Homo sapiens: one gene and its partner. The protein of the gene in region 1 interacts with the protein of each later gene in a pairwise test. Each region holds a gene or a part of one and is shown in the gene's direction. Other genes may lie near its edges. The genes, in order: MEP1B and SMIM24.

Region 1 (3,810 bases):
TAGTAGAGACAGGGTTTCACCATGTTGGTCAGGCTGGTCTCGAACTCCTGACCTCATGATCCGCCTGCCTCGACCTCCCAAAGTGCTGGGATTACAGGCGTGAGCCACCACGCCCGGCCTTAAAATATTTATTAGAGATGAGGTCTCACTTTGTTGCCCAGGCTGGTTAGCAGCACTTTCTAGAATCCTCCTTTCCACGAGCAATTTTTACAGCCTTAGACTAAATGCCAATGTCCTAACTATGGGCTGCAATAGAACCTTAGATATGTTCAGTGTGACTGCTGGTATCACAGTTCTAAGCTTGAATATTATATTGTAAGATGGGAATAATGAAACTGTTGTTAGTTGTAGCAAAAATTGCTTGAGTTTATTATATTCTCCATTTCTAAGTGAGCAGTATTTGGAGTAAGATAAGCTGAATTTTGTGAACATCAAGTAAAGATTTTTTATTTATCCTTTAGGCAGAGAGCACAATTTTAACACCTATAGTGACGATATATCAGATTCCCTGAATGTTCCCTATGATTACACTTCAGTAATGCACTACAGTAAAACTGCATTCCAAAATGGAACAGAGCCGACAATTGTCACAAGAATCTCAGACTTTGAGGATGTGATCGGCCAACGAATGGATTTCAGTGACTCTGATCTCCTAAAGTTGAATCAACTGTATAACTGCTGTATGTGACAGGTTCTTTGAAATGACTTATATTTTCCGCTGTTATGTAGGAAAAAATGATGGTCTGTGCCATTTTGTCAAGCATTGGTGGGGTTTCTGCGATTATAGAGATTTGATATTCAGGAAATAAACAGAATAGCACTCAGATCTCAATCTACAACTTGGAAGCAGCATTTTTCTTTTCACCACGTCTGGTGTTGAGATCTAAAAACAAATTGGGTCCTGTAGGAATATGCCTCAGGCAAGTTTTTAAAGCTGTTACTAATTCAAACCTCGGTCAGATTGATACTCACACTTCCTTTTAGCCAAAATGATATGTCTAGTTGTAATATGAATGGGATCAAATAATCTGGATTGTGGCTTAATGATTCGAATAACTAGGGGAGTATAGACTCAGGTTTCTACAAATTAGAAAATTTTTTTTAAAAAAGACTTCAGGCAGGGAGCTTATTCAGATCTACAGAATTCATTACCTTCTTTGTAGGGGTTCTGCAAATAAAGAGGGATCTTTAAGCCACCATCATCCAGAATCAGCTAGGTGTTCCCTGTAATACCAACCTGGCATTTCTAATACTGTGATAAGTTCAGTTTTTGTTACTTAGATTATCATGTTGTATGAGTGTCAATAATTGTTTTTTGCTTTTTGTAGCCTCTTCCTTGAGTTTTATGGACTCGTGCAGTTTTGAACTGGAAAATGTGTGTGGCATGATCCAAAGTTCAGGAGATAATGCTGACTGGCAACGGGTTTCACAGGTTCCCAGGGGGCCAGAGAGTGATCACTCCAACATGGGCCAGTGCCAAGGTAACAGGAGTGAGATATTCCTAGACTGTATACTCAGTGGCTACAGCCACATACTTCTCTATGAAAGAATGGGATTTTATCTCTAATTTCTATCAGAATTATTAATGATTATTCATTAGGTTACTACTGAGAAGTAGGCCTTGCACCTGATAAAGACATTGTTAATTTCTTTGCTTTTCCTTCCTGAGTTTATTTTTCTTTCTACAAGTCAGAGCTGGGCTCTGTGATGCCTCTACCAGTGCGTTCCCATAGGAGAGTGTACCAGACTGGGCCTCCTGCAAGGCCTCTTATCTCAGGGGCAGTACTATTGTTTCCTAGAAGTTTGCAGAATACAAGAGACTCTTTCCAATGGACAGCACTAGGCTGCGAATTATTGTTTCAGAACTGTAGCTGGATGTGATTATATGCTCCTGTTACAAAAATATCTAAAAAGCAGAGTTTATTTAATTTTCTTCAGATGCGTATCCTTTTCCATTTTCATTTTGTTTTGCCTTAAGTAGTTATTTGGCTACAAGGACCAAATTTTTACGTATTTGCTTATTCTGGCATCAAATATGTAAAACTAGACTTCAGAACTTAGGGCCAGTGCTTAATAGCTCAGATGATCTAGGCAGGAATTGGAGGCCTCTAATGGCAAAAAGGTGCTTTTCCTTTTATTTTTCTTTTTAAATGCATATTTGGATAGTGGATAGTGGTCCTACTCAGACCAGAGGAAAGTAGATAGGGAGGGAGGGGGAAAAGAAGAAGAATCCAGACCAGGTAGCTCTCACTTTTTTCTGTTTTTGAAAACTAATTTCTGTGGTAAGGGAAAGGTTCCCTAATGTTGTCTCTTTCATAAATCGCCTGCTCCTAGAACCATATTTAAATGCCCAACACAATTCCCTGCATATAGTGGAAACTAAGCGAATACTTGAAATAAGGTAAAGAAAATTGGGCCGGGTGCAGTGGCTCATGCCTGTAATCCCCGGCCTTTGGGAGGCCAAGGTGGGCGGATTACCTGAGGTTGGGAGTTTGAGACCAGCTGGGCCAACATGGTGAAACCCTGTCTCTACTAAAAATGCAAAAATTAGCTGGGTGTGGTGGTGCATGTCTGTAGTCCCAGCTAGTTGGGTGACTGAGGCAGGAGAATCACTTGAACCCGGGGGGCAGAGGTTGTAGTGAGCTGAGATCATACCATTGCGTATCAGCCTGGACAACAGAGTAAGACGTTGTCTCAAAAAAAAAAAAAAAATGAAAGAAAATATATATACACTCAAACCAGAATTACTAGCTGTGCCTTCTTTAGAGATGGCTTAGAAGGTTAAGTATTGCAGATAATGAAAGCAGATAAGTGGGAGGTGCCTCTGAAATTATCAGGTTCAGTTATTCTCAATTTTTTCATTACAAGTATCATTTTAAAAATATTAAAATGTGAATCTCCCCAGATGGTTGCTGTAGTTAACAATATCTTCTGAAAGTTGAATTTCTTTCTTCCTTTTCTTTTTTTCTTCCTTCTTTTTTTGTGACAGTTTGAAGCCAAAGAAGTTAGAAAGTGTTTAAAAAAAAAAGGGGGGCGGGCAGGTCAGCCAAGGCCCTGGTTTCCTGGCTGGACTCTCACCTCTGTCCGCAGTGTGTGTTCACCTTTCCAGAAAGACCTAGAAGTTCACGTTGAATTACCCTTGGGAGACACAGATGCTACAACTCTCTACCCACCCAAGTTTCAAACCCTCGTTTTGACTTAATTTCCATTTTCCTTTTTCATATTCTCAGCGGGGGAACAACCCTCTGTAGCATCTTTGTCCAATGGTAGCTCTTTCCACTTGGAGCTGGACCAGGGTTTTGGACACTTGAAAGGTGTCCCATGTAGAATCTACCTTTTAGCCCTGCTGTTTGGGCTTGACCTGCAGCCTTACAGTGGATTTTTAAAAAGTTAGCATTTGATACTTAAACTTGCTTTATCTTTATAGCTCATAACAAATGAAGATAAGCAAGGATTAGTGCCCACGGAAAACTACTATTGTAAGTAAACGTTTTATAAATAATAGAGAGGTTTGAGTTTTATACTGTTATGTCAATCTGCTAGCTTTTGCAAGTGCCAGATATGTAGCTTAGGCTTCTGTCATTTCTCCCTGGCGATTTATATATGGATGTTACTTATGCCTCGCGTAAAGAATCTAGCACCACCATTAACAAACACACATTCCTATACCCAGTATCTGTTTTTCTCTCAATTCTGCTTTTCTTTAACAGGTTCTGGTTTCTTCATGCATTTCGATAGCAGCTCTGTAAATGTGGGGGCCACAGCAGTGCTGGAAAGTAGAACGCTGTACCCTAAAAGAGGATTTCAGTG
Region 2 (3,910 bases), on another chromosome or scaffold:
AATAGATGCCTGCCTGGCTGGTTCAAGCAGACCTGTGGCCATCCTGGGGCTGGGATGTGTGAGCCCCATCCTGCTGAGTGGCCGGTCTGCTCAGCGGTCATCCGCAGACCTCCGGAAGAGAGGAAGTGACAGCGACTCAGCAGGCGCTCCATAAACACCTGTGCGATGACGCCGGGCCTTCCTACCACTCGTCTGGGCCATGGCTGCTCCCGTGTCAGCTGGGGCGGGGTCCCCCTTCGCCCGGGCAGGGCCCACTATCTAATCAGCCGAGGGACCAAGGTTGAGGACAGGAGAGCCTGGAGCCTGAGTCATCAACGCTCCCGGGCATCCCCACGTGAGAGCGTCCCGGTTTGCAGGTGGACCACGGGCATGTGGCCTCTGCACACCTTCCCTGTCCCTGTGTGCTCCCATGGCTGCTTGTGGGTCCTCAGGGGCCAAGAGCCTGGGCGAGGCAGGATAAGCTGGGGGCGAGGCAGACCCGGCTTCAAATCCCAGGTCAGACCTGCTGCGTGACCTTGACTTTCCTGGGCACAATGAGACCGGCACCATTTCACGGGGTGTTAAGAAAAGGAAATGCGATCTGTGAAATTGCCGAGCACGGAGCCTCATGTGTACTCTGAGAGCACAAAAGGTGACTCTCAAATTTGCTTTGAGAGACAAGGTCTTGTTCTGTTGCCCAGGCTGGAGTGCGGTGGTGCATGCAGTGGTGCAGTCGTAGCTCGCTGCAGCCTCGAACTCCTGGGCTCAAGCGATCCTCTCACCTCAGTCTCTTTGAGTAGCTGAGACTACAGGTGCAGGCCACCATGCTCAGCTAAGTTTTACATTTTTTATTTTAGAGACGGGAGGAGGTTGGTCTGGAACTCCTGGCCTCAAGCGATTCTCCCGCCTTAGCCTCCCAGAGTGCTGGGATTACAGGCGTGAGACACTGTACCCAGCCTTGGTAACTCTTTGTATTTCTAATTTTTTTTATTTCCTTTGAGACAGGGTCTTCCTCTGTCACCCAGGCTGGAGTGCGGTGGTGCGGCCATAACTGGCTGCAGCCTCAAACTCCTGGGCTCAAGTGATCCTCCCACTTCAGCACACCCTAGTAGCTGGGCCTGCAGGTGCCCGCCGCGCCTGGCTAATTTTTCTATTTTTGTAGAGGTAGGGCTTGACTAAGTTGCCCAGGTTAGGCTCAAGGATCTGCCCGCGTTGGCCTCTCAATGTAGTGGGATTACAGGTGTGAGGCACTGGGTGGGCGCACCCTTCTTAAGATATTCCAGTTGTATTTGTGAGTTCCCCCTGTGTCCAGAGTGGCACGGGGCCTGGGCCGGGACGGGAGGTCGCAGCCATCTCAGCTCAGCCCCTGCAGCAGGGATCACAAAGGGGTGGCCCTGAGGCTGATGGTCCCCAGGGCAGGGTGCAGGGAGGAGGGACTCCCTCAGTTAATTGTTACACAGGTCCAGAGTCTGGCCTCCCGGAGGGAGAGCGATGGGGCAGGAGCTGGCAGGGGAGGGGCAGGATGCCCAATCAGGTGGTGCCAGGGGCGGGCCCCGCTCCCAGGTCTCAGGCATCCCCCGCCCGGGGACCGCCTGTGCCTTATCACGGGGAGGCAGGGCCTCGCCCACACCAAACCTGTGGACGCCGACCCGGGACCGCCGCTGGCTGGCTGCTGGCTCACTCGACCGTCATGGAGACCCTGGGGGCCCTTCTGGTGCTGGAGTTTCTGCTCCTCTCCCCGGTGGAGGCCCAGCAGGGTAGGTGCAGGGGGGCGGGAGGGGGCGTCGCGGGATAGGGGAGTTGGTCAGGTGATCACCATCTCCCAATTTTCCATGGCGAGAAAAAGGAGAGGGGGCAGGAAGAAAAGGAAGAGTGGCTTGGAGGCCCTTCTCAACCCCCGCAGTACCGCCCGGCCTCCCTCTCGCTGGGCTCTGCCCTCCTCTGTAAGGGACCCCCCACCGCCCACCCGAGCCTTTCCCCTCTCCAGCCCTTCTGAGCACACCTGGCTGAACCCCCCGCCTTGAGCTCGGCCCCACTCTGAGCTCGGGCCTCCTTTACAAGCCCCTCCCCATCTGAGTCCCCGCCTCTTTTGTGAACCGCTCCTTCTCACTCCTCCTCCTTTATAAACCCCTCCCCGAGCCCCTCCTCCTCTGTAAGCCCCTCCCCTCTGGGCTCCTCCTTCTTTATAAGCCCCTCCCCCTGAGCCTCTGCCTCCTCTATAAGCCCCTCTCCCTCTGAGCCCCCTAGTTCACAAGCCTCTCCCCATCCGAGCCCCTTCCTCCTTTGTAAGCACCTCCTTCTCACTCTCCCTCCTTTATAAACCCCTCCCCGAGTCCCTCCTCCTCTGTAAGCCCCTCCCCTCTGAGCTCCTCCTTCTTTATAAGCCCCTCCCCCTGAGCCTCTGCCTCCTCTACAAGCCCCTCCCACTCTGAGCCCCCTAGTTCACAAGCCCCTCCCCATCTGAGCCTCTTCCTCCTCTGTAAGCCCCTCCTTCTCACTCATCCTTTATAGACCCCTCCCTGAGCCCCTCGTCTGTTGTAAGCCCCTCCCCTCTGAGCTCCTCCTTCTTTATAAGCCCCTCCTCCTGAGCCTCTGCCGCCTTTATAAGCCCCTCCCACTCTGAGACCCTCTCCCCTTATAAGCACCTCCCCTCTGAGCTCCTCCTTTATAAGCCCCTCCCTCTAAGCCTCTGCCTCCTTTTATAAGCTCCCCCCAACAGCTCCTCTGTTGTAAGCCCCAACCCCCCAGACTCTTCTTTATAAGCCCTCCCCATCTGAGCCACCTCCTCCTTCATAAGCCCCTCCCCTGAGCTTGTTCTCCTTTATAAACCCCACCCCTGAGCCACTCCTTTGTCATAAGCCCCGCCCTTCTGAGGTCCGCCTTTATAAGCCCCTCCCCCTGAGCCTCTGCCTGCATTATAAGCCCCGCCCCTTCTGAGCCCTCCTGATTTGTAAACTCCGTCCCCTCTAAGCCCCCCTTCTTTTATAAGCCCCTCCCCTCTCTGGGCCCCCAGGCTCCCTCCCACTCTGGTAAGGTACCCTCCCCCTCTCTAAACCCTCCCGACCCCCCTACGCCATCCAGGTCTCTGAAGCTCCGTCCCTTTCCAATACCCCCTCTGTCGGAGCACCCCCAGTGACCTTCTCTCTCTCCTTGCTAGGGTGGTGGGGGAAGGGGGTCTTCTGACCTTTTCTTCCTCTGAGTCGAACCTCCCCAACTTCCTGCAGCCACGGAGCATCGCCTGAAGCCGTGGCTGGTGGGCCTGGCTGCGGTAGTCGGCTTCCTGTTCATCGTCTATTTGGTCTTGCTGGCCAACCGCCTCTGGTGTTCCAAGGCCAGGTGGGTGCCCGCCCCCACCCCGCTGCCCCCACAGCCCTGCCCCCACCCCCAGCTTCCCAACCCTCTCTGGTACCCCCATCACCAGCCTCAAAGTCCGAAGGTCTCCCATTTCCCTGCTGCTCCTCCAACCTCTACTCTCAGAGCCCAGATCCCGGGCTTGCACCCGCCCGTCTCCCCAAGACAACGAGCCAGGCAGCCCAGCCCTTCCTTGCGTCCTGGGGTTCATGAGCCCCGGCTGGGAGGTTGGGACAGAGGCTGAGGCTGTCACACCGCTTCCTTCCCTTTACCGCCCCCTTTCTCCTCTCCCGCCCCCTTCCACCTTTCCCTTTATCTCTGCAGGGCTGAGGACGAGGAGGAGACCACGTTCAGAATGGAGTCCAACCTATACCAGGACCAGAGGTACTATGCGTGCGGATGCTGGGGGTCTGTGTGAACCCCTCCTCGGGGTGGGGGAATGGGTGTGCGCAGATGACCTTGCTGTCCTGAATCCTTCAAACACATTCCTGCCCTGGGATCTTCACCTTTCCTGTATCTTCTGGCAGCTCCTTCTCCTCCTCCAGTCCCTAGTCAGGGGTTTCCAGCCTGGCCACCAGCC

What was found.
Region 2: the proteins of MEP1B (region 1) and SMIM24 interact in a protein complementation assay, tested with the Homo sapiens proteins (one study listed by IntAct).

What each region holds. Positions count from the first base shown.
Region 1 is NC_000018.10:32,206,791-32,210,600, forward strand, and holds part of MEP1B (meprin A subunit beta isoform 1 precursor), read left to right. Parts: intron 1-461; coding exon 462-680; intron 681-1,328; coding exon 1,329-1,481; intron 1,482-3,710; coding exon 3,711-3,810. UniProt on the Homo sapiens protein: Membrane metallopeptidase that sheds many membrane-bound proteins. Exhibits a strong preference for acidic amino acids at the P1' position. Known substrates include: FGF19, VGFA, IL1B, IL18, procollagen I and III, E-cadherin, KLK7, gastrin, ADAM10, tenascin-C.
Region 2 is NC_000019.10:3,478,223-3,482,132, reverse strand, and holds the start of SMIM24 (small integral membrane protein 24 precursor), read left to right. Parts: upstream 1-1,607; 5' UTR 1,608-1,669; coding exon 1,670-1,736; intron 1,737-3,203; coding exon 3,204-3,315; intron 3,316-3,654; coding exon 3,655-3,714; intron 3,715-3,910.